Linked DNA regions of Homo sapiens. The protein of the gene in region 1 interacts with the protein of each later gene in a pairwise test. Each region holds a gene or a part of one and is shown on either strand. Other genes may lie near its edges.

What was found.
Region 2: the proteins of RNF112 (region 1) and DBH interact in binary tests that used the Homo sapiens proteins (3 or more experiments, as listed by UniProt).
Region 3: the proteins of RNF112 (region 1) and PHYH interact in binary tests that used the Homo sapiens proteins (3 or more experiments, as listed by UniProt).
Region 4: the proteins of RNF112 (region 1) and PEX26 interact in binary tests that used the Homo sapiens proteins (3 or more experiments, as listed by UniProt).

The regions. Positions count from the first base shown.
Region 1 is NC_000017.11:19,407,283-19,414,253, reverse strand, and holds the start of RNF112 (RING finger protein 112), read right to left. Parts: upstream 3,023-6,971; 5' UTR 2,846-3,022; coding exon 2,792-2,845; intron 2,784-2,791; exon of another isoform or gene 2,755-2,783; intron 2,625-2,754; coding exon 2,584-2,624; intron 1,757-2,583; coding exon 1,471-1,756; intron 1,317-1,470; coding exon 1,110-1,316; intron 975-1,109; coding exon 843-974; intron 678-842; coding exon 573-677; intron 160-572; coding exon 109-159; intron 1-108. UniProt on the Homo sapiens protein: E3 ubiquitin-protein ligase that plays an important role in neuronal differentiation, including neurogenesis and gliogenesis, during brain development.
Region 2 is NC_000009.12:133,653,356-133,659,855, forward strand, and holds the end of DBH (dopamine beta-hydroxylase precursor), read left to right. Parts: intron 1-1,231; exon of another isoform or gene 1,232-3,167; coding exon 3,168-3,295; intron 3,296-3,714; coding exon 3,715-3,874; exon of another isoform or gene 3,875-4,053; intron 4,054-4,960; coding exon 4,961-5,092; 3' UTR 5,093-5,974; downstream 5,975-6,500. UniProt on the Homo sapiens protein: Catalyzes the hydroxylation of dopamine to noradrenaline (also known as norepinephrine), and is thus vital for regulation of these neurotransmitters.
Region 3 is NC_000010.11:13,297,058-13,304,421, forward strand, and holds the start of PHYH (phytanoyl-CoA dioxygenase, peroxisomal isoform a precursor), read right to left. Parts: upstream 3,008-7,364; 5' UTR 2,986-3,007; coding exon 2,911-2,985; intron 2,707-2,910; exon of another isoform or gene 2,363-2,706; intron 1,189-2,362; coding exon 1,130-1,188; intron 1-1,129. UniProt on the Homo sapiens protein: Catalyzes the 2-hydroxylation of not only racemic phytanoyl-CoA and the isomers of 3-methylhexadecanoyl-CoA, but also a variety of other mono-branched 3-methylacyl-CoA esters (with a chain length of at least seven carbon atoms) and straight-chain acyl-CoA esters (with a chain length longer than four carbon atoms).
Region 4 is NC_000022.11:18,101,977-18,105,916, forward strand, and holds the end of PEX26 (peroxisome assembly protein 26), read left to right. Parts: 3' UTR 1-3,420; downstream 3,421-3,940. UniProt on the Homo sapiens protein: Peroxisomal docking factor that anchors PEX1 and PEX6 to peroxisome membranes. PEX26 is therefore required for the formation of the PEX1-PEX6 AAA ATPase complex, a complex that mediates the extraction of the PEX5 receptor from peroxisomal membrane.

The DNA.
Region 1 (6,971 bases):
GTGTCATAAAACCCTAGGCCAGACCAGGAGGGCACCTAGTTCCTTTGGGTCCAGCCCTAGTGGGGAGGGTGGGGGTGGGGGATGCCCCAACATCAGAGGTCTCTTTACCTCCAGATAGTCCAGGTCTGTATCCTTCAGCTCCTGGGAGGTGCTGAGGATCTGGAATCAGAGAGAACAACATGTATGAGAGATTACAGAGGCCGGGTGACTTCACTGGGGAAGGCCCTGGTGAGTAGGGAGCTCGCAGGCAGCCTGTGGGCCTCAGAGTATGGGAGAGGCCAGTATGGGGGCCTCGAAGGCTGCAGGGCTGGGCTGGCCTCAAGGCCGGAGACAAGCCTGGAGGGTAATGTGATCCATCAGGTCTTCAGCTGCCCCTGGGACCATCAGCCCACTTTTAGGAATAACCCACGTTCCCACCTTCACCAACTAGGAGCACCTTCCCCCTTCTAAGGCAGCCCCAGAACCTATCAGGACCCCAGACACCAAAGCCTGTGAGATGCTCTGGCCTTGAGGAAGCTGAGCTGGAGAAGGGTGTGTGGGGTGGGGATGCCAACATCAGCGCCCCCCATCACCTGGTAGGAGCTCAGCATCGTGGTGAGAGCACAGAGCTTGATCCTTGTTTCCCTGCTCAGCTCAGGGCTCATGGCATCCCCTGTGTCCACCAGGAACACCGCCACCTATGCAGGGGGTAGGGAAAGACCCAAGGGGCCAGGCCTGCCTTGTTCTCCCACATTCTTCCCAACCCTGCCCCGTCCCATCCCCATCTTCTATCCTCACCCCAGAGACGCCCTTCTTGATTCCCCTTCCCATCCCTGACCTCCTTCTGCCACTTCCCCCCTCACCTTCTTCCCTTCTTTCCCCAGCAAGAAGGGGTGGCTCCACATCCATATGCCCCTGGCGAGGCCATTGGCGCCCCACCTGCAGCCCTGCAGGGATGCCTCTCCTCCTCTTGGCCGGCCGCCCTCACCAGACTCCTGCAGGGGAGAGAAGGGAGAGCATCAGTTGGTCGGTTCCTTGTCCCCACAGACCGGAATACCAGACCCAGCTTCCCCCAGGCAGGAACCCCCATCCTTGCTCCCCGCCTCCCTCCTGCCCCGCCCCGCCCTCACCAGGCCCGGCAAGCCCTGAAGCAAATGGTTGAGGAGGAAGGACTTCCCTGAGTGCTGCTCCCCCAGGACAGCGAGGAGGCAGACTGGGGTGTCCCTGGCCAGAGGGTGCTTCAGGCAGCGGTTGATGGCCCCCATCCTAAGGATGAGGCCCCCAGAGGCATTGATGCGAACCAGCAGCAGCGGCTCCGCCCTCACAGGACACGTCTCCTGGGCCAGGAGAAGAGAGGGGCCCCTGAGCATCCAGGACCAGCTCCTGACCCTGGAATGTGTTCAGCCTGGAGCTCTGTGTCCTGATGTTCTAGAATAGGGCCAAAGCCACCCCCTCCTCTTGGGTCTGACTGATTAGGCCCAGTCCCCAGACCTGCAGTGCAGGGGGCAGCGGCCGCTGCGGCAGGAGCTTCATCTTCTCGCCCAGGCTCCGGAGGCCCCTCTTCTGCTTGCATATCTTCCGGCACTCAGGACAGCAGGGCGGCTCACAGCCCGGGAGACGGTGTGTGCTGAAGCACCGTATGCAGAAGTCGTGGCCACAGTCCAGCGAGATGGGGTCGCGCAACCTCTCCAGGCAGATGGAGCAGGTAGGGAGCTCCCGGGGCGCCATGGGCTGGGGCCCCAGGCCTAGCTCCAACTTGGGGAAAGGTGTATGGGACCTGTGGGGCAAAACAGGCCATTGAAAAGCAGGATGTCTATTGGGGGCAGGGGGTACCGGCCAGGGTTGTGGTGGAAGACTGATGGCTTGGGAGTGGAGGTCCCTTTGTGCCAACCCAATTTCCATCAGTGCCTCCATGGACAGGCGGAGCTGCTCCCAGAGAGGCCAAGCTCTGCCCGTTCCTCACTGACATGTGTCCTAGGACCTGGGGGCCTCAGAGTGGGGGCAGCAGAGCAATGGTGAGAGAGTCTGAGAGGGAGAAAATCTGAGTGGAATGGACTCCACCACATCCCAGCCATGCAAATGCAAGCAAGTTCCTTCCCCTCTCTGGGCCTCAATTTCCTAACTGTCCCAATGGAGAGGATAGCAATACCCCTCATGGGGCCGTTGGGGTGGCCATCCGAGAGGAGGCGTGTGCAGCTGTCTGCACAGTGCCTGGTGCAAATGCTTGGGAAGAGCCTCTCCCGGCGTTCTACAGCGGGGCTCCCTCCATGAGGTGCTGACTTCAGCCAGGCCCCCAGGGATGATACCCTCCACAACCCCATGCTACAGGGACAGTGAGGAGAAGCCATCAGCCTGTGCTGCAGTTGGGCAGATGGCTCTGGATCTTAGAAGATTCCTTCCGCTCTCTGCTCTGAGCTGGCATCTGCCTCCCTGCAGCACCCACCTGCTTCTTCCTGTCCCTCCCTCCACAGCCTGGCGGATCCAGCCTCAGGCGGACAGCCCTCCCGGCTGGGCTGCCGGGCTCTGTGTTCCAGGACCGGCCATTTCAACTGACCTGCCTGGCCTCACTGCACCCATCCCAGCCTGGAAGGCCCTGCTACTTACCAACTGTTGCCGCTGTTTCCCATGAAGCTCTGTTTTCTCTCCTTGGAGAAAAAAAAAAAAAAAAAAGATTTAGAACATAATCCAGACTTCTATCTTCACCCTGGATTTCCAGGGACCCCTCATCCTCCCCACCCCCGGCCCATCCCCCAGCCCAAGGAGGGCCCTTCCCACCCCACTCTCCTTCCCGATCTTAGGACTGAAGACTTGCCCGTTTGCCAAGCCGATGACAAAAGGAAGTGACTGACAAGGCGGGCCTTGGCATGGGAGGCTGGGATGGGGAGAGGGTCCGGATGCAGAGGGGGAGGCCCCGAGACCTTCAACCAGAGGTAAGGATGCCTTTTCTCCCGGAAAGGCTAGCAGGCTGCGGTAGGTAGAAGGTGAGGTCGGGGGATGGTATCCCCGAGGAGCTGACTCCCGGTCAGAGCTGGAAAAGAAATGTGACAGTCAGGAAAGAGGAGGCTGCTGCTGGACTCACCCCAGGGGGAGGAGACACGGCTGCGGGTAGCAGGGCTCCGAGGAGGGAGGGATGGAGCCCGGCTCAGAATCCCTGGCAGAGGCTGGGATGCAGGCAAGCCGAGGTGGTGAGTCGCCATGGAGACAGAAGGGAAAGATAAGGACAGGGAGGGGGAGGGGGACAGAGAGGGAGAAGGCGTGCGGTGCACCCGCAAACATGGAGGCGCCTCCGGCAGAACCATGGGCCAGCACTGCCTCTACTGGGCCAGCTGAGGTCTCCCCAGGGCCACAGGACAGGGTGGGCAAAGAGAAGAGGTGTGAGAAACAGGAGAGGGTAAGACCAGAGCTGACCCAGAGACAAGGAGTTATTCATCCATTCATCCAATGAACAGTTACTGAGTACCTACTATGTACAGAGCCCCCAAATGCAGACCCTACTTCACATGGCCCTGCACATCCTCCTGCTCTCTCTCAGGTTTATGTCATCGACGCCCAACCCAGCTGCAGCCTTCTTCAGCACTCATGGGCCCTCCGTGTCCTCTGGTGTATTTCCCTCCCAATAGCTTTCACTCTGCCTCAAACTTGAGCAGGATGAAATCTATCAAAACTATGAGCCACCTCTGGACCTTCTAATGGCCTCTTGACTGGGCTCCTTGCCTCCCTTCCACTCCCCAGTGCACAGCCAGCATAGGCTCCCCAAGCACAGATGACCTCACACTGCGCAAACACCTTTTGTGTCTCCCTACTACCATCAGATCAAAATCCAAACTCTCCGGCCTGCGGACTGGGCTGAACCTTCCTTCCACCCTTCTCTCGCCCCACTCTTCCCTGCCTCTGCACCCTGGCTTGGCTGCTCTGCTCCTTCTCATCCCTCCTGGGACACCCTCTTAGGCCCAGTGCAGGTGCTGTGGCCTCCCTAGAGCCTCCTTTCCTCACCCCTCCCAACTGGGTGCGGTCTTGTTCTTGGACAGTTGAGGGCTGGGATATGTGATAGGCTTGGCGCAGCCCAGGCTTCAGAGCCAGGCAGATCTGGGCTTGATTCTCGGCTCAGGGGCTCTGGGACTCCACTGCACCTCTCTGTGCTCTGAGGAGCCACCATTACCTATGTAAAGCCACTAGTCCAGGCACGGGAGTCATTCGTACATCCTATGAGCTAGGATGCAGAAGGGTTGGGGTGAGGTGGGATTCAGAACCTAGAAAAGTTCAGCAGAGACCACCTTCAGCAGGTGGAGACACCCCTGAAGCTGGGGCTGGATCTTGTTCATTTTGGTGTCTGGAGGGCCTGAGATTGTGGGGCTGAATCAATCAGATTCAGAGAAGCAGTGCCATAGACTCTGCCTCCTCCTGCCCCAGGTGGGACAAGCCCCTGTGTGTTGGCAGCAAAGCCTCACACTCAGGGGATGAGGAAGCAAGCCTGAGCCGTGCCACAGCTCTGCCTTCAGGGCAGAAGGGAGGGTTTTCTCAACCCCTGTAGCCTTTCATCCTTGCAGGAGAGAAAGCGTGGGCGCTGGACTCAGATTCAAGCTCTAAACCTGCCTCCATCCCAGCATGAAATGCTGGTGAGTCACTGCCCTCTCTGAGCTTCCATTTGCTCATCACCAGGCAAAGATGTGAGGAAGCAGATGGGACAATCAGTCTTCACTTAATGATACTTACTGAGCACCAGGTACTGTGTCTCACACTGCAGTACAGCTGGAAACAAGAGAGACAAAGCTCCATCCTCCCCAAGATCCCAACTGGACAATTAAAAGGCATTGCTATGATCTGGGTGAGAACCTGGATGCGGGGAGGGTGAGGAGGGGTGTCAGGCTGTCCTGATAAGCAAGGAGGTAGAAAAAGGTTGTCAAGGCAGGGCAAACCACAGGTACAGGGCCCAGAGGAGAGGGGACACAGAACCCATTCTGGGGAACAAAGGAGGTCCGGCTGGCCTGGCAGGAATATTTGATGCAAAGATGGGTGCACCAAGGTGAAGGGCAGAGCAGGCCTGGGTCATGCAGGCCCTCAGGGGCCAAAGGAGGGGATAGGGACTTCACCAGTCAGTATCTCAGGAGGGATCCCGCAGGGCAAACATGTATGGTAGAAGCCTCACTCTTAGGGCTGGCTATATAATTTTATTTATTAATTATTGTTATTATTATTATTATTTGAGATGGAGTTTCGCTCTTGCTCAGGCTGGAGTGCAATGGCATGATCTCGGCTCACTGCAACCTCCGCCTCCCAGGTTCACGCGATTCTCCTGCCTCAGCCTCCTGAGTAGCTGGGATTAGAGGCATGTGCCATGACATCTGGCTAATTTTTGAATTTTTAGTAGAGACGGGGTTTCTCCATGTTAGTTAGGCTGGTCTTGAACTCCCGACCTCAGGTGATCTGCCTGCCTTGGCCTCCCAAAGTGCTGGGATTACAGGTGTCAGCCACCACGCCTGGCCAATTTTGTTGTTGTTGTTGTTGTTGTTGAGATAGGGTTTTACTCTGTCACCCAGGCTGGAGTACAGTGGTGTGATCTCAGCTCACTGCAACCTCTGCCTCCTGGGTTCAAGCAATTCTCCAGACTCAGCCTCTCCAGTAGCTGGGACCCCAGGTGCACACCACCATGCCCAGATACTTTTTGTATTTTTTTGTAGAGACGGGGTTTCATCATGTTGCCCAGGCTGTTCTTAAACTCCTGAGCTCAAAGTGATCTGCTTATCTCGGCCTCCCAAAGTCCTAGGATTACAGGCATAAGCCATGGTGCCTGGCCAGGCTAGCTATACAATTTGTGGATTTGGTGAAAAATGTAACTGCAAAGCCCCCACCAGAGGCAAGAAAGTCCATTGCCTCTTCTAATGGCACATTGCCTCCACACATGGCCAACAGGCAGCCCCTCCAGATTGCCACAGTCATTTTAGGACACGCTCAATACCTGGATTGGGGGTCGGGGAGAAGCCTATGCTAAGTTTCAGCCCAGGGAGGGGAGAGCCACCACTCTGTCACACCCTAAGATGCCAGGGGCCAATCCAGCAGTCCCCAGTCCTCCTTGAGCCTGCATTCAGGCCTCCAGATGAAGGGGGGCAGCCATGGTGGGGCAGAGGTGGGGACACTGGGAGCCTGGGAGTGGGCAGCCAAGAGCCTGTGCTGGGGAGGCAGTGGGACATGGGACACACACAAACCAGCTTCCGAATTCCCAGTGAAGGCGCCATTTTCCCATCAGACTTCACTCACAAAGCACAAATTCAATGCTAAAATGATTGTTTCAAGATGGTGACCAGAGCACTGAAGCCCAAGCACACAGCCCTTCTGAGCTCTCGCCTTGAGTGGCTGCACTGGATGCATACCTGGGAAGCTGGCCCCTCCCACTCTGGCTGCTGTATGGACAACAGACTAGAGGGGCAAGCGGGGAGGCTGAGGGTGCTGCTGGGGAAGTCAAGGCCACAAGTGGAAATACAGATCCACTTGGGATCATACCCGGGCACCTAAAAGAGGGCATTCCCCAAGGCACGGTACAGGCCGACCAGGTGGATAGGAGACGGGAGGAACACCAGGCCTGCTCCTGGATAAAGGATGGGATAAAGGATGGGCCCTGCTCCTTTGCAGCCAGAGGCCTCTGATGCTATCTAGGGCCCCAAGGGGAACCCCTGGCCCAGGGAGGCCAGGTGTGGTGGTCCTGGGTCCATGTCTATGGGCAGCCCCGCTTTATCCATTATGCTCCATGAGTCTCTTGAGTCTACGGTCTATGAGAATGTTTGAAACCTAATGGAAAAATGAGACTCTCCAAACCACAAAAAGAAAATTTCAAAATCAAAAGTAACACCCACTTAGTTTAATGTCCCAGTACCCCTTACATGATGTTAGCTGGTAAACCCAGCTCGAGTTATCATCTGTAAAGTCAGATTCAAGTCATGAGTGCACTGATTCAACAAATGTTTACTGAGCACCTACTAAGTGCTGGGCACAGTGCT
Region 2 (6,500 bases), on another chromosome or scaffold:
GAGGTTGACCTTTGCCCCGTGGAGCTCAAGGTGCACCAGGGAGACAGGCCTGGAGCACCTGCTGCTAACAACAAGCAAAATTACAAAACAAAACTTTAAAAACCAGGTTGAGGAGGCAGAGGTGCGGGGACCTGGGAGGGCCTTGTCAGAAATGTGGCTGTCACATGGAGCCCAGGGGAGAGGGGAGGAGGTGAAGGAAGGCTCTGTGCAGGGGCTGCGTGCGGGAAGGCCCAGAGGACCAAGAACATTCTCAGGATGGAAAGGAGAGGAGGAGAGGGTGGAGACATGGGTGGGGGTCAGGCAGGATGAGCGTCAGCTGAGGATGCATTTTGGCTGGACTGCAGACAGTTCAAGGAGAATCTGCACTGGAGAGATCTATTTTCAAGGCTGGGTATGCAGGCAGCACCAGGACACGGGCAGCCACGTGATGCATCACGCAGCGGGGCTGCTTCCGGGAGCCAAAGGGGATGCTGTTCACAATTACCTGGGTCCCAGGCACAAGCCAGGGCTGTCCTGGCAAATGGGCCACCTTGCCAGTGGATCCGTGCCAGCTGCTTCGGTAACCATGGTGGTCTCCAATAATTATCCTGTGAATTGTGTGGCTCAAGTGGAGCAGACCTGGGTTACAGCTACCCTGACATCCCTCAGCGCCAGGAACTCAGGTCCATGTCACAGCCCTATTCTTTGTGTTTTAATCCAATGTGGATTCACCTGATGTTTACTGAGCCCAGACTGCCAGTGGTTTATTTTATTTTATTTTATATTTTATTTTTTTTTGAGACGGAGTCTCGCTCTGTCACCCAGGCTGTGTGTTCTCAGCTTGCTGCAACCTCCACCTCCCGAGTTCAACCGATTCTCCTGCCTCAGCCTCCTGAATAGCTGGGACTACAGGCACCCACCACCACGCCTGGCTAATTTTTGTATTTTTAGTAGAGATGGATTTTCACCATGTTGGCCAGGCTGGTCTCAAACTCCTCATGTAATCCCTCATGCTGGGATTACAGGCATGAGCCATAGCACCCAGCCAGTGTTTGTATTTTCACAGGTGAGACATAAAGGCTCAGAGAGGGCAGGCACTTGACCAAAGTCACACAGCTGATAGATGGCTGAGCTGGGATTTGACCCAGGGTCTTGTGCCTCACAGCTGTTACCCCACCCTTCCTGTCTCCCTTGGATTTCAGGTGACAAGTGTCCTAGGTTCCTGATCACAAACTCAGGGTGGAGACAGGACAGCTTTGTCAGTCCTTTATTCTCTCTAGAGGAGGTGCTCAGTATATCACAGCAGTGGCTGATGTCGGGTGCTTGCCACAGCTCAGCACTGCTCTAATAACTCATCCTAACCACACCAAGCCTTGCTGAGACCTCTGAGCAATCCCACCAGGAGATACAGTGAGGTCCAGCCACTCAGGCCACACAGCGAACAGGAGGCAGGGCTGGTATGGGTGCAGGTGCCAACCCCGACTGTGCCGCCTCTCGGCTAAGCACCTGTGCAGTGACTGAGTGGGCTCGCAAACAGAGGGCTCTGCAGGTGGAGCACCCCAGGCAAGTCCCCACCATCAGCCCCATTCTGCAGGCGCGGCCCCGGGGCCAGGGATGGGAGGGTCTTGCCGGGCATCCAGCGAGGAGACTGCATATTCCCTGCCCAATCTGGCTTCACGGCGGCGGAACTGACGCCACGTCCCAGGGCGTTCGGGGCTGCCAGGCCTGGTGAGCACCGCGGACATCTCAGATGGCCGTTCTGCAGGTTGAGGCCCTCGGTGCCAGCGTCCCCGTGGGCAGTTCTGTGGCTTCCCTGGCCCATGTCGTCCTCTTGGCAGTGGCCACATCACAGCACCAGGTGGGATCAAAGGGGAGGGCAGCTCCCCAGGTGGACCTGAGCTTCTCACACTCTGACAAGCCCTCGCCTGCTGATCCAAGACACAGTGGCCTTTGAAATTCGATTTCCTTCCCCAGGTGAAAGAGGAGAACAGATTCTACACAGGGTCGGACTCAGTTCCCTTTTGATGTCTGTGGTGGCAGAGGGTGGGGAGGGACAGGAACTCACACAGGAGGGCAATCGTCCCGATCTGACGGGGGCGGGATGGATGAGAAAAGCTGGGAAAGGAGGAATCCGGCCCAGAGAACAATGCTGGCAAAAACGCGTCCTGGCCAACAGGTGCCAGGTTTCGTCTCTGGGCAGAACTGTCCCATGCTCTTTGTCTGCACGGGAGGAGGGGGCGGCAGCTGGTGTAAGTGCCACGCCAAGCTTTGCCCAGTCCCTTTGTTCTGCCATAGAGTAAAGATTGCCTTTCTTCCCCACCAGCCAGATGAAATCCCCAGGCCCACAGCAGCTTCACAAACAGCGGGGAGCCTGGAGGGGCAAGGGTGGCCAGGGCGTCATGTCCCGGCCCCTGACCTGCTGGGATCTGAGCTGCTGCCGGGGGAGCTTTGCTCTCTCCAGCCCCAGCTCCTCCAAGCTGCTGCTGTTCTTCCTCCTATGGCTGAGGCTCCACGGTCACCAGCTCCAAGAGCAGCAACCCAGCGAGGGGCTTAAAGCTGGCAGTGGGGACTCAGAGGGTGCCTGCCCTGCCCCTCCCATGCGATGGCAGGCCGTAGGGTTGCCGTGAGAGGCTGGAGGTTGTCGCGGCCTCTAGTCACGGTCCTGTCTTATAGAGTCCCTGCTCCCCTCAGAGCCACGTTGGAGAAATGACTGGTGGACGGTGCGGGGCTGCAGTGGAAAGGGCCTCCCTTGCAGTCCTTGGCTCCAGGCTCTCGCTGGAGGTCATGGGGACAGCTTCCAGACAATGGCCGGGACGCTGGGTGCACTCAGGCTGTGCCACCGATGCTGTGGCCACCACGGGGCATCCCCTTGCCTGCTCTGAGACTCAGTTTCTGTACCCATAAAATGGGCACAATAACACCCCATCCGCTTGTCCCGTTTCATTTTTCCTCACAGCATCATCAGTACCTGATACGAATTTCCTGGTTGACTCACTCACTCACTGCCTGTCTCTCCTGCCAATGGTGGCAATTCCTTGAGGGCAGGGACTCGGTTCCCCAGAGCATGCCTGGCACGGTGCAGTGAACAGACGAGTGGACGCAGTGTACACGTGGGTGCGGCGAAAGCTGCTGGATGGCAGCGTCTGCGTGGCATGGCCCGGGGCTGACGGGTCTCCTCCAACTTGCAGGGGGGCTTCGGGATCCTGGAGGAGATGTGTGTCAACTACGTGCACTACTACCCCCAGACGCAGCTGGAGCTCTGCAAGAGCGCTGTGGACGCCGGCTTCCTGCAGAAGTACTTCCACCTCATCAACAGGTGAGGGCTCCCTGCACAAGCTCCCTGCCCCCAGGGAACCCCGACACAGAACCTCGGGCCTGTTAGGCGGCTGGGCAGATTGGAGGAGTCCAGGCTAAGTTCTAGGAGCAGAGACCTGTGGCGGCATCACTCACCCCTCCCCTCACTCGTTTCCTGCTGAGTCTGGATTTGGCTTCAGAGCCTCCTCAACCCAGCCTGCAGCAGCCATTACCCACCCGCCAAGGTGACAGGAGAGGTGAGGCCGTTGCCGGTGAAGGCAGCATCTGGGGTGGCCTGGCGGAGGCAGCGGGGCTGGGGAGGAGGTGGCAGGACGGTTGCCCCAGGGACAGGACTCGAGTTGCAGGGAGGTGTTGCTGGTGCCCACTGGGCTCCCTGCCCGTCAGCTGCTCCCCAGCCTGGCTGTTCCTTGTCCCCACCAGGTTCAACAACGAGGATGTCTGCACCTGCCCTCAGGCGTCCGTGTCTCAGCAGTTCACCTCTGTTCCCTGGAACTCCTTCAACCGCGACGTACTGAAGGCCCTGTACAGCTTCGCGCCCATCTCCATGCACTGCAACAAGTCCTCAGCCGTCCGCTTCCAGGTGCGCTGCCATGGGCCCGGGTGGGGCATGCAGTCAGGCAGGCCTCATGGGGGGCCCCAGTGAGGGGTGATGGGTCTGCACTCCAAACTGCTGGCAAAAGCACTCGCACAAGACAATGAGAGCAAGTGCCAGGTGGTGACACATAGGCCTAGACAGCCAGCCAGCCAGCAGAGAGAGAGGAGAGAGGAGAGAGAGGAGAGAGAGGAGAGAGAGGAGAGAGAGGAGAGAGGGAGAGGGAGAGAGGGAGAGGGAGAGAGGAGAGAGAGAGGAGAGAGAGAGAGAGAGAGAGGGAGAGAGAGAGAACCAATAACGAGGCAAGGAAGGGAGGGCAGGCACCCTCTCTGGTGACACCTCCACACTGTACCGAATGCCAAATGCAGGTGGTGTGAGCAGGGCGCACTAACCTGCCTAAAAATAAAGCACCAGGGGAGGGGAAGGTAAGAAACGAACCAGTCTGAAGCTGCGAGCTGGTTTTTTCCTCCTTATCTGAGACCCACTGGTATTCGAAGGCATCTAATTTATCCTGGGCCCACTGGGCTGTGGTCAGGAGGCCAGGGCCTATGCAGAGTTAGTCGCGTAAGGTGCCGCAGCCTGGAGATCCAGGAAGATCCTTCCCAGAAGCATTTGGGAGCCAGATTAACTGCTAAGTCAAACATCCTCAGCACCAAGGGAAGGAAGGGCTAATACTGGCTTGCTGAGAATAGTGTGGGGTGGACGTCTGATGGGGTTGAAAACTTGGCATTTGGTGTAGCCTTGAGGGGAAGAGATAGCTAAAAAATATCAGAGCCTGCAGCCAGGGGCTCTGGTTGCTACACTAGGGTGAATGATTAAATTGGGTGGGGACAGAGGCGGGGAGAGGCCTGGATGACTCCCAGGTTCCTGACTAGGTGAATGGGAAGCCAGGGGAGGGGGCATTTACTGAGGTGAGGACCCCCAAAAAGCAACTTGGGGGAGCAGAGTGAGTTCAGTTTGAGACAAGCTGAGTTTGAGGGCAAGAATCCAAGAGGTGGCTGGGAAGTGGCTGGGGAAGCAGCCACCCATCTTGCCCCTCCAGCCTCAGTTTACCTCCTGCCCCCTTCCTTGCAGGGTGAATGGAACCTGCAGCCCCTGCCCAAGGTCATCTCCACACTGGAAGAGCCCACCCCACAGTGCCCCACCAGCCAGGGCCGAAGCCCTGCTGGCCCCACCGTTGTCAGCATTGGTGGGGGCAAAGGCTGAGGGGGGACCTACTCCTCCCCCTCCTCCATGCTGTCCCTGTGGGCTCACACCGGCACTGTGCACTCTACTCTGCGACGATCCCCATGGAACAGCCCTGCACGCCCAGGATGAAGGGGCCAGACCACGCCCCTGCCTGAGACCACGGTCCAATCCAGCCTTCTTCCCCCAGGGTCCCCTGCATGGCTGAGAGGGTGTGGGTGCCCTGTTGACCTACCCTGGACCGAGTGGACCACGACCTCGTCCATTTAAACCCGGCTGACTCAGTGCAGGGACAGCCTGCACAGTGGTCCAGGGTCCAGCCCTCCGCCAGCCCTGTTCCGCCTCACTGGGTGTGGCCTGGCTTCTGGGACAGGCACCATGCTGGGCCGGGGTGTGGAATCACCGGGAACGCCCCCGCCCCCGCCCCGCTGCTCCCGGTGTGCAGCGGGTGCGGGTGCCGCTTAAACATTTCCCTGCTGAGTGGCTCGTGTTTCACAGTGGGCGGCTTCCCTGCGACGGAGGCAGGACCAGGCATTTAGCTAGTTAGAGACTCGCCTGGGAAATTGCTCCATTCCTGAGTAAACAGATATTTTCGCCCACCTAAAGGGAAGCCCTGACAACAACTATCACCAAAAGACGAGGCGGCAAAGATCCAGCGGGGCTTCTGGGCGCCGGTTCCACGTGGGGTGGAATTATTAGCACCAGCTTGCTTCTCTGCCGGTGGGGCCAGCGCTGAACAGACCGGGGTGGAGTCAGGGCTGTGCTTTCCGCGTGGTTCTGCCACTTAGGGAGTGTGCCTTGGGCGGGCCATTTCACATTCCTGACCCTCACTTTTCTCATCTGTAAAACCAGGCTGATGCCGTGCGGGCTAATGAGCCAATAAAGCTCACACTTGGGCTGGCACCCACTGGAGGTGGGTATGTTTGCACTCCGGGCCGTCGCTCCAGGAGAGAGAAGCTTGCTCCTGAGCCTCCTCCCTGTGCCAGGCGTGGTACCAAGTGCTTCCCCCTGAGCGTCCTGAAGCTGCCTCAGCTGGCCTGGGTGGGTCTCCCCTTCCTGCCCTCTGAGCTGCCTCTCAGGGACAAGTTCAGCTCTTTGATGGTTTCTGGAGACAGTAACAGATGCACTTGTGTTCAGCCACTTCAGCAAAACGCTGCCCAGCCTCATGGGGAGAGAGGGAGATGGATGGGCCTCGGAGTCCCCTCGCATCAGCTAAGCGGCTGCTGCTTCTGCAAGGCACTTCACTTCATCACAGAAGGGAAGTCACGAGCCCAGGAGCTCTGCCTCACGTTGTATAAATCACAGCTTCTTGTGGTCCATAAGTCACGGCGCTAGCGCTGTGAAATGCCAGGCCCCAGCCTGGAGAGCCACTCCGGCCCTCTGTCATCTTTACAGCCTAGGTGACAGTAGACACGGAGCAGGCCCAAGA
Region 3 (7,364 bases), on another chromosome or scaffold:
TGAAAAAAAGAAAAGCCTGCAAAGAAATACACCAAAGCAATTTTTAACAGTGATTGCCTTTAGAAATGGAATTAGGGATGATTTTTTAAAATTCCTTCTATTTCTCTGATGTTTCTGTAATGAATACATATGATTTTTCAGATGGGAAACAAATTCAATAAATTGTATATTTTTAACTGTCCAGTTGATGCATTCCAAGAAGGTAAAGTAACAAAATCCAAATAAATGTACAGCATACCCATAAACTCAAATCACCCAACCTATTCCTTAAGATCGGAATTGTGGTTGTATGAGAATATTTAGGAAGGTCAAGATCTTCCCCTTTAAAGGTGATTTAAGATAAACCAAAGATGCTAGCTAATATGTCCATATAACCAAATACAAGCTAATTTGTTTTGTTTTGTTTTGTTTTTTGAGATGGAGTCTGGCTCTATCACCCAGGCTGGAGTTCAGTGGCGTGATCTCAGCTCACTGCAACCTTGACTTCCAAGGTTCAAGCGATTCTCCCACTTCAGCCTCCTGAGTAGCTGGGATTATAGGTGCACACCACCATGCCCAGCTAATTTTTGTATTTTTTCATTTTGTAGAGGTGGGGTTTGTAGAGATGTTGGCCAGGCTGGTCTCGAACTCCTGACCTCAAGTGATCCACCTGCCTTGGCCTCCCAAAGTGCTGGGATTACAGGCATGAGCCACGGTGCCCGGCCACAAGTTAATTTAAATGAGATGTTTAACTGAATTTTTAAAAGTCAGATTATAAGGCTGGTGTGATGGCTCAGGCTGCAATCCCAGCACTTTGGGAGGCCAAGGCAGGAGGATTGCTTTAGCCCAGGAGTTCAACACCAGCCTGGGCAACATAGGAAGGGCCCGTCTCTATTAAAAATAAATAAATAAATGTCGGATTATGTATTTTCTGGTATTTTTCCTTCTTTCTGAATCTTAAAATACATACAGAAAATTAGTCGGTCTCCAAAATTTTCCACAAGTGCACTAATTAGAATAAGTCCTGGAAACAGAGGATTTGTATAATAAAATTCTAATCAGGTAACATATTATGTGGTATATCTTCATTACCACTCAAGAAACTTTTATATACATAATATATTTCAAAATCAAAACTCAAACTACTTACTGGAATTGTTGAGGATGGAAACTGGCAGAGGAAATAGTCCCTGAAGTGGGATGAGCTACCTAGGATGTGAATTAAGGCAAATAAAGTAAAATATAGAAGGCCAGGCACGGTGGCTCATGCCTGTAATTCCAGCACTTTGGGAGGCTGAGGCAGGAGGATTACTTGAGCTCAGGAGTTCGAGACCAGCCTGGCCAACATGGTGAAACCCCATCTCTACTAAAAATACAAATTAGGCCGGGGGCGGTGGCTCACGTTTGTAATCCTAGCACTTTGGGAGGCCGAGGCGGATGGATCACCTGAGGTCGGGATTTCGAGACCAGCCTGACCAATATGGTGAAACCCCATCTCTACTAAAAATACAAAAATTAGCCAGGCGTGGTGGCGTTCATTTGTAATCCCAGCTACTGGAGAGGCTAAGACAGGAGAATTGCTTGAACCTGGGAGGTGGAGATTGCAGTGAGCTGAGATCAGGCCACTGCATTCCAGCCTGGGCAACAGAGAGAGACTCCATCTCAGAAAAAAAACTACCACCACTACTACTACTACTACTACTACTACTACTACTACTACTACTACTGCTACTACTACTACTACTAATAATAATAATACAAATTACACTTGGGAGGCTGAGGCAGGGGAATGGCTTGAACCTGGGAGGCGGAGGTTGCAGTGGGCCGACATTGCAGAGTGCGGCACTGCACTCCAGCCTGACCACAGAGCAAGACTCCGTCTCAAAAATAATAATAATAATAATAATAATAATAATAATAATAATAATAACAACAATAACAACAACAACATAAATTCGCCTGGCATCGTGGCGCAACCCTGTAGTCCCAACTACTTAGGAGGCTGAGGTGGAAGGATCTCTTGAGCCCAGGAGTGAGCCGAGATCGTACCACTACTGCACTCCAGCCTGGGTGACAGAGTGAGGCCCTGTTTCAAAAAAAAAAAAAAACCAAAAAAGCAAAACCCTAGAAATTCCTTTTAAAGATCTCCTTTCTATCCGGTAACTGCAGAGAGTTGACATAGAATTGCATTGTTTCTTTAGCTTAATCGGTTACTTTCGGAATGTCACTCTCATCAATTAACATGTTATCCTTTCTTTCTCTCTGTTTCTCTCTTTTGGAACGCACTGGCCATCACGGCTCACTGTAACCCTGGACTCCTGGCCTTGGCCCCCAGAAGAGCCGAGACAACAGGCAAGGCGTGTGCCGCCGCGCCAGTCCTCACCCGCTGTCCTTCCCCAAATAGTGTCTTTATATAACTCAGTGGCAATGCCGTAGTCCAGCAGGGAGGCCGCCCTGGGCAGCGCCTGCCTGGCCAGCTCCTGCCCGGGAGGGCACCGTCCTCTCCCCTCCGGAGAGGTCCCGGTCACTGCCTGCCTGGGCCGGTTCCAGGCAGCCCTGCGCGCCTGTGCACCGTGCGCCTGTGATTGGACATCTCTGGGTCTCTGGACAGCTGCCGGGGTCACGCGCCGCCGGTGAAACGACGTCTCCACAAAGAGAGGAGCAGAGGCCCCCAGGGATCCCGGAGGGCAGGGCAACGCGGCAATTGCCCCGACCCCAGGGCGGCCGCGCGTGTCCTCGGGGGACGCAGCCTCTTCCCCGCTCCCCGGCTCCTGGAAGAGACGCGACCCAGGCGGGGACGCGGCGCTGAGCGAGGAGGCGCTGGGGCTGCGAAGCGTGCGACCCCGAGGCCTCCACCCGGACCAGGGCCACCACTCAGGCGGCGGCGCCGGCGCCGGATCCAGCCCGAGCCCCGCGCAGCCCAAAGGATACGACAGCCCCGGCCGAGGGGCGGCCGAGGTGGCCCAGAACAATCTGCAGACGGGCGGCGGCGCGAAGCTGCTCCATGGCTGCGGCGCGGGGAACCCCCACCCCTCCCGGCCTCTGCCCCATTTAGCCCAGCGGGCGGCTCCGCCTCCAGGCGCCGCCCCGGACTGGACGTAAGCGGGATTCCGGGCGGTGCCAGCTCGCGGGCCGGGCTGCTGGGGAGCCCTAGTCCGCTAGAGTCCGCGCGCCGGGCAACCGCCCGGGGCTGAAGTCCTCCCCACACCATGATCCTTCCGTCCTTTATTTTCTTTCTTTTTAAAAAGAAACAAGATCTTGCTCTGTCGCCCAGGCTGGAGTGCAGTGCGCGATCATAGCTCACTGCAGCCTTGAACTCTTGGGCTAATTTTTATTTTTTGTAGAGATGGGGTCTCGCTACGTTGCCCAGGTGGGTCTCAAACTCCCCCCGCCTCCCGTCTCGACCTCCCAAAGTGCTGGGACTACAGGCGTGAGTCATTACCCCTGCCCCGCACCCTGTTTCTGTTCCATCACCAGGACCCTCCCTGCCGCACCGAAGCTCGGGGGCCCAGTGACCAGGCCGAGGTCACACAGTGACAAGTGGCTGGGCTGGGACCTCACTCACTCTCCTAACGTCATGGCTTCCATCTGTTTAACCCTACGTGACTGCTCCTTCCACTGACAGCTGAAAGAATAAAATCTCCGATTTAAACAAAAAGTTTGCCGGGCGCGGTGGCTCACGCCTGTAATCCCAGCACTTTGGGAGGCCAAGGCAGGCGGATCACGGGGTCAGGAGTTCGAGACCAGCCTGGCCAACTTGGTGAAAACCCGTCTCTACTAAAGATACAAAAATTAGCTGAGTGTTGTGGCGCACGCCTGTAATCCCAGCTACTGGGGAGGCTGAGGCAAGAGAATCACTTGCAACCGGGAGGCGGAGGATGCAGTCAGCGAGATGGCGCCACTGCATTCCAGCCTGGGTGACAGGGCAAGACTCCGTCTCTAAACAAACAAACAAACAAACAAACAGGTTTTTAGCCGGGTGCGGTGGCTCACGCCCGTAACTCCAACACTTTGGGAGGCCGAGGCAGGAGGATCGCTTGAGCTCAGGATCGCTATAGATCGAAAGCAGCCTGGGTAACATAGTGAGAACACCTGATCTACAAAAAAATTAGCCGGGCGTCGTGGCGGGCGCCTGTAGTCCCAGCTACTCAGGAGGCTGAGGCAGGAGAACGGTGTAAACCCAGGAGGCGGACCTTGCAGTGAGCGAGATGGCGCCACCGCACTCCAGCCTGGGCGACAGAGCAAGACTCCGTCTCAAAAAAAATAAAAAATAAATCAATAAATTAAATAAATAAAAATTCCAGACATTGTATGAGGAAGCATTGCAAAACTTTCTGTTCTGTTAGCTGTTGCCTGTAGCCCCCAGTCATGTTCCCCACGCTTGCTCGATCTCTCACTAAACTTTCACGTAGACCCTTAGAGTTACAAGCCCTTAAAAGGGCCAAGAATTTCTTTTTCAGGGACCTCGGTTGCAAGTCTGCCGAAGTTCCCGGCCTAATACAGCCCTTCTTTAATCCGGTGTCTGAGTTTTGTCTGCGGCTCGTCCTGCTGCAGGAGGATCACCTGAGCCCGGGAGTTTGAAGTTGCAGTGAGCCCAGATCGTGCCTCTGCACTCCAGCCTGGGCGACAGAGTGAGGCCATGTCCAAAAAACACAAAAACAAAAAACAAACAAAACTCCAAAACATCAATGAAGTTTTGAAAATAAAAATAAAAAAATAAAAATGCTAAGATGCATCCCTAAAAGTCATATGTGCCATTCAAAAGGGGTATTTCATTTAGTGGGACTCCAGCCCAAAATATTAGAAAGTTCGGTTGGTCATAAAAAAAAAAAAAGTGAATAAAATAAATGACCTCCAGAAAAGTCTGATGCACACAGGCCAGTATGGTGTAAATTTCTTAGATAACTCCAGCATCTCTTTGTAAGATTTATTTTCCATTCCATAACTACGGATATTGACATAGCATCTCATTGTTTCTTTAGTTTCATTTTTTCATTGATTTTTTGTTCTTTTTTAGCTTCGAGTTACTTCCAGAACGTCGCAGCACACGTTATCACTTCCTGCATGACGTCTTTATAGAATTTGGTGACAATGTCGCAGTCCAGGAGGGAGGCCCGCAGCCAGCATCACCAGCCCCTTCCTGTTTGCACAGGCAGGGAGGAGAACGGCAGCTCCCAGGCTTCCACTGGGGAGTCCCTCCGGCTTTCTCCGGGATTCCGCCCGCCCCAGGGTCTCAGACCAACAGAAGGACCCGGGATCCCTCAGCAGCTCCGGACCTCATCTGCCCCACTTCGGCATCCCGCGCGGGAATATGACCATGTAGGAGTAACCCGGGGCTCTCAAGGACTCTACGGTTTGTCACGGTTTGAACGCAAGCGCAGGGCCTGGGGCGGGTGCAGGTGGAGGGTCGGCCTCTTTCTGCCCTTGGGAACGCCCCTTTCTGGATGTGGACCGGCGAGGCGGTCTCTCCTTTCTGCCCTCGCCTGGTGAAATGTGGGCACTGCTGCCAGGAGAAAAAAAACTGAAGCTGTGAATTCAGTTCATCACCCTTCCCTTGTTTATTAAAAAATCGGACCTTGGCCGGGCGCGGTGGCTCACGCCTGTAATCCCAGCACTTTGGGAGGCCGAGGCAGGCAGATTAGGAGGTCAGGAGATCGAGACCATCTTGGTTAACACGGTGAAGCCCGGTCTCTACTAAAAATACAAAAAAGTTAGCAGGGTGGTGGCGGTCGCCTGTTGTCCCAGCTGCTCGGGAGGCTGAGGCAGGAGAATGGCGTGAACCCGGGAGGCGGAGCTTGCAGTGAGCCGAGGTCGTGCCACTGCACTCCAGCCTGGGTGAAAAAATAAAAAAAAAAAAAGATCAGGACCTTTACCCGCGCTGACGGTGATTGGTTTTCATGACCAATAAAGAAATTCGAATGAGATGAAGCTACTTACACCTGTGTTTTTACTGTTCCTTTAAAATGCCCTAATTTCACAACCATGTGAAAATTCCTGCCATCTCTCCCCCAAGGCATTTATACAAGGATGTACTTAGATATTTAGATGTATTTAAATTTATGCTTTTCTTTTCTTTTTTTTTTTTTTTTGAGACGGAGTCTGACTCTGTTTCCCAGGCTGGAGTGCAGGGCGTGATCTCGGCTCACTGCGACCTCTGCCTTCCGGGTTCAAGAGATTCTCCTGACTCAGCCTCCTGAGTAGCTGGGATTACAGGCGCGCCATCAAGCTCAGCTAATTTTTTGTATTTTTAGTAGAGCCAGTTTCACCATTTTGGCCAGGCTGGTCTCGAACTCATGACCTCAAGTGATCCGCCCGCCTCAACCTCCCAAAGTGCTGGGATTACAGGCGTAAACCACCGCACCCGGCCCAAACTGATGCTTTTTACCGACAGATGAAGGAAATTCTTAAATGCTCACAATTGTTATCTGCCTTTTTAAAATTAGAGGGATGCTGGGTTTAACATTTTTCATTTAAGATCCCACGGAGAATTAACATAATAATTTCTCCGTAGGTAAAGAGGTAATTTGATGAATGTTACTAGTTTTCTTTCAAATAGCTATTTGGATTATTGGAAAATTCCCTAAGTAGGCATCTTTAATAATTATGTTATTAAAATAAAAATATTTTAGAACAATTGAAGCAGAACATTAATGGAATGTAAACATTATCACAAGAATGAAAAGTTCTTTCCCCTTTGGTATTAGGCATTTATTCATTTCTTATTAAAGTTGACCTTTTGAAGATTACTTCAAAATTAGCTTCCCCCCACTTCCAGTAATGTGCTTGGTTACTTACGTATTGAAAGTAACCTTGCAGACAAGTTTTGAAACACAATTTTCAAAATGATCTAAGGAATAGTTTTCCCCATATATATAAATTAAATGATTTGTTAAATAATAGCCATATTTGAACAGCTAAGTAAAATGTTTGAGTTTTAAAATCTTGGATTAAATTGTTCAAACTGGCTAGGGGAAGTGGGTCACGCCTGTAATCCCAGCACTTTGAGAGGCTGAGGCAGGTGGATCACCTGAGGTCAGGAGCTCCAGACCAGTCTGGCTAACATGTTAAAAACCCGTCTCTACTAAAAGTACCAAAAAAAAAAAAAAAAAAATTAGCTGGGCGTGGTGGCACATGCCTGTAATCCCAGCTACTCAGGAGGCCGGGGCAGGAGAATCGCTTGAACCCGGGAGGTGGAGGTTGCAGTGAGCCGAGATAGCGTCATTGCACTCCAGCTTGGGCAACACGAGTGAAACTCCATCTCAAACAAAGAAACAAACACAAAAACGAAAACCAGAAAACAAACAAACAAACAAAAACCCCAGAAAATTAGCTGAGCGTGGCACACCTGTAGTACCAGCCACTTGAGAGGCTGATGTGGGAGGATC
Region 4 (3,940 bases), on another chromosome or scaffold:
GTGGGTAGAGATTCAGGTATGGAGATGTCAGTGTCTAACTTTCTTCTAGTCTTTGCAATTTCACAAGGAAAATCACTAAAATGTGCGTCTCTTCATTTAAAAGAAAAAAAAGTTCATGCCAAAGCTGCTGGGACAAAGAGGACTCATGATAGTGGGTTATTCCACACTGTTGACACACTGAATGTATGCTGGCAGAAGGGCCTCAGGTGGAATGCTGGGCATGGGTTTGCCCCACAGCAGTCTGATTCAAAAGCACCTGAGAGATGGGAGGAGTACTAGGGTTACTAAACACAAGAAGGTGTTTCAGGAGAAACACATCAAGCCATTTGTTTTTGACCCTTAATACTTAACATGAATGATGAGTTGCAGAACAGTCAGTCTTTCCAAGATGTATTGTTCTATCCTCAATAGCTGCAGCCTCTCCAAGCCAGTGGGCTGGTGACATCCAGGATGATCCTCTTCCTTGCCTGGAGGTGGGATCTAGTGCCACAGCTTGTTCGGGGAAGCTGGCATAGAAGATGATTTGCTCAACAAAGTCACCGCTAAACTATCGCTTAGGTCTAGTCCCCGGCCTATGGCACCAAGTACTCCTGGTAGTACTTGTACACAGAATTTCTCTATAATAACCAGAACATGTCATCCATGGTAATGTCTGCTACATATCCAACCACAGCATCAAATTCTGTCTGATGAAGGGCACCAGCCCCTTCATCTTTATCATGCCTAATATTGTGAAGGCCATGTGCTAAATCCAGCAATCCGCTCCAGTAGGTGTCCTTCAGGATACTTTTCTGTCAAGTAAATACATTTATTAAAAATAGGCATGTAGCCGGGCGCAGTGGCTCACACCTGTAATCGCAGTACTTTAGGAGGCTGAGGCGGGCGAATCACGAGGTCAGGAGTTCGAGACCAGCCTGGCCAACACGGTGAAACCCCATCTCTACTAAAAATACAAAAAATTAGCTGGGCATGGTGGCGTGTGCCTGTAATCCCAGATACTCAGGAGGCTGAGGCAGGAGAATTGCTTGAACCCAGGAGGCAGAGGTGGCAGTGAGCCGAGATCGTGCGATCGTGCTATTGCACTCCAGCCTGGGCGACAGTGTGCGACTGCATCTCAAAAAAAAAAAAAAAAAAAAGGCATGTAAAAGTTAATCTCATGGAGGTAGAGAGTAGAATGACAATTACTAGAGGCTGGGCAGGGTGTGTATGTGGGATGAAGAGGTGGCTTGATGGACACAAACATAGATAGAAGGAGTGAGTTCTAATGCTTGATAGCAGAATAGGGTGACCATTGTTAACACTGTATTGGGTGTTTCAAAATAGACGGAATAAAGGATTTGAAATGTTCTCAACACATAGAAATGAGAAATACTCAAGGTCATGGGTATCCTGGATACCCTGAGTTGATCACTACACATTCTATGCATGTAATGAAATGTCACATCTACTTCAATAATATGTACAAATATTATTTATCAAAAAGCAGGCATGTAGGTGAGTTGATTTTCTTCCATGTCTTCAAACTCCTGGTAATACTTGTCCACAAAATTTCTCTATAATAACCGGAACATGTCATCCATGATAATGTGTACTATATATCCAACCACAACATCAAATTCTGTATCAGAGGCAGAAGAGAAGGACAGCATGAAGCTCGATTCCTCCAACTGTCCTTTGGCTGGTGGCCCTCCACCCTGCCCACAGCCCGGCCAGCTCAGCCCCGTCTCTGTCCCATACAGAGCCACAGCCACAGTGAGAGCCTGGCAGCCTGCCCGGAGGAGGCTTCTTGGCCCAGCCCGGTCAACACCCACATGCACCACCACCAACTTTTTGCTATTGTGAATAACATAGCTGTAAACAGATTGCATATGAAAGTGCTGTGAAATCACCAAGGGCTGAGTAGAACAGTTAAGACGATAGTAGTTGTTTTCTTTCTGGGTTTTTCTCTTGGGCTGGTTTTTGAAAGTGGATCTACAACATTGATAGAGATCAGTTTTTCTGCTCTTCCAACATACTGCCAGGACGTGGTCCAGAAAGATTGGGTACTTTGCAATACTCATAGCAATATGTGAAGTGATTGGAAAAAATGAGACTATTCAACCAGTTGTTTCAGTGTTGGTTAGGAGGAAAATGCCCAGAAAGGGGAACAGTTAATCATCTACACAATACCAAGAGCAGGAGGGGATGACCGACGGCTTCATCTTTCCTAGTCTATCCCACACAGACCTTTAGGTGCTCTTTTTTTTCTTTTTTTCGCTCTGTCGCCCATGCTGGAGTGCAATGGCGCGATCTCGGCTCACCACAACTTCCACCTCCCAGGTTCAAGCGATTCTCCTGCCTTAGCCTCCTGAGTAGCTGGGATTACAGGCATGCACCACCACGCCTGGCTAATTTTTGTATTTTTAGTAGAGACGGGGTTTCTCCATGTTGGTCTGGCTGGTCTCGAACTCCCAACCTCAGGTGGTCCACCTGCCTCAGCCTTCCAAAGCGTTGGGATTACAGGCATGAGCCATCGCACCCGCCTCTTTAGGTGTTCTTTTAGGAGCTGGTAGCGGAGGAAGGTGGTTACCCATCTGTGACAGAGCCTTGGATGTCACGAGGCCACAGGCTGGCCTTTCCTCCTGTTTACAGGAGGTGAGTTTTCCTGAGTTCCCAGCCTCAGTGTTCTCTGCACAGTCTGTCACTGACTCCCGCTCCCAGTGCTCACTGCCTCTTGTTCTCACTGCCTCCTGTTCTCACTGCCTCCTGTTTCTGCTGAGTTCTTTGCATCTGCCTGATGTTGGTTTAAAGCTCCACCCCTCCCAGGGGAATTTGTCCCATGATTCACCTCCTCTTTGGTGATCTCTTGATTGCGGCTGCTGCAGCCATGTAAACCTTAAAGGCGAGCCAATTTGTTTGTGATCCAGTGGCCAAAATGGTTCACCCTCAACTTCCCTTAATCCCCTGCAGCATCTGAGACACATGGGTGAATGTATGTAAGGTACTTGGGGCTAACCAAAGTTAAATACATATGACAAGTACCTGAATCTAGATAATCTAATGGTAAGATATCGTTTGCTCTCTGGACTTCATGGGCTCACCCCAGCAATGGGGTGCCTGGAAATGAAGAGATCTTTCTTGTGTCTCATCCTCTGGGCTCCCAGCCTCCCTCAACATCATGACCTCCATCTGTAACACCCACCATCCTGGAGCAGCATCCTGGATATTGGAACTCTGAAGTCTAACCTAAGAGAACAAGGACAAGCCTCTCTATGAAAGGTTTGCCCTTCCAGATCCAGTTGAGCTCTGCTCTGGAGCCAGACTCTCTGAAGCATAGCCCAGCTCTAGCTCTTACCAGTTATGTGATCAGGAATGAGAGTTAATGTTTCTATGTTTCTGATTCTTCATTTGTAAAATGAGGATAATAAAAATTTAACTTCAGAGGTTTGTTGTGAGGAATAAAAGCCATTAGCACAGTGTTTGGCATATAGAAAGTGCTCAGTGTTGGGGAATATTGAACAGATAATGAATATCGCCAAGAGTCTTTTCCTGGGTGATTGATAGAAATTATCTTACCTCCTGCTCTAATGAATGTGGCTCAACTATTTAGGCCATAACTGTAATTATATTTGGTTATATGGCCCCACAGCATTAAAATTCATACAAGAAGAACTTCACTCACACATAGTAACTGGAATGCAGTAGATGTGGATAATTTCTTTAAAAAGCCTAAATCATATGGGTGGTTGTTTTTTCATAAACAGCCTAGGCTTAACTTCAGTTTCTCATCTACAAAAAGGGGACTGTACTAGGGTTCTCCAGAGAAACAGAACCAATAGGTGGTATCTTGAGAGTTATAAGGAATTGGCTCATGCAATTATAGGGGCTGGGAAACCCAGGACCTGCAGTGGTTATGCTGGAGACCCAGAAGAGCTGAAGATGTGGTTCCAGTCTGTCTGAA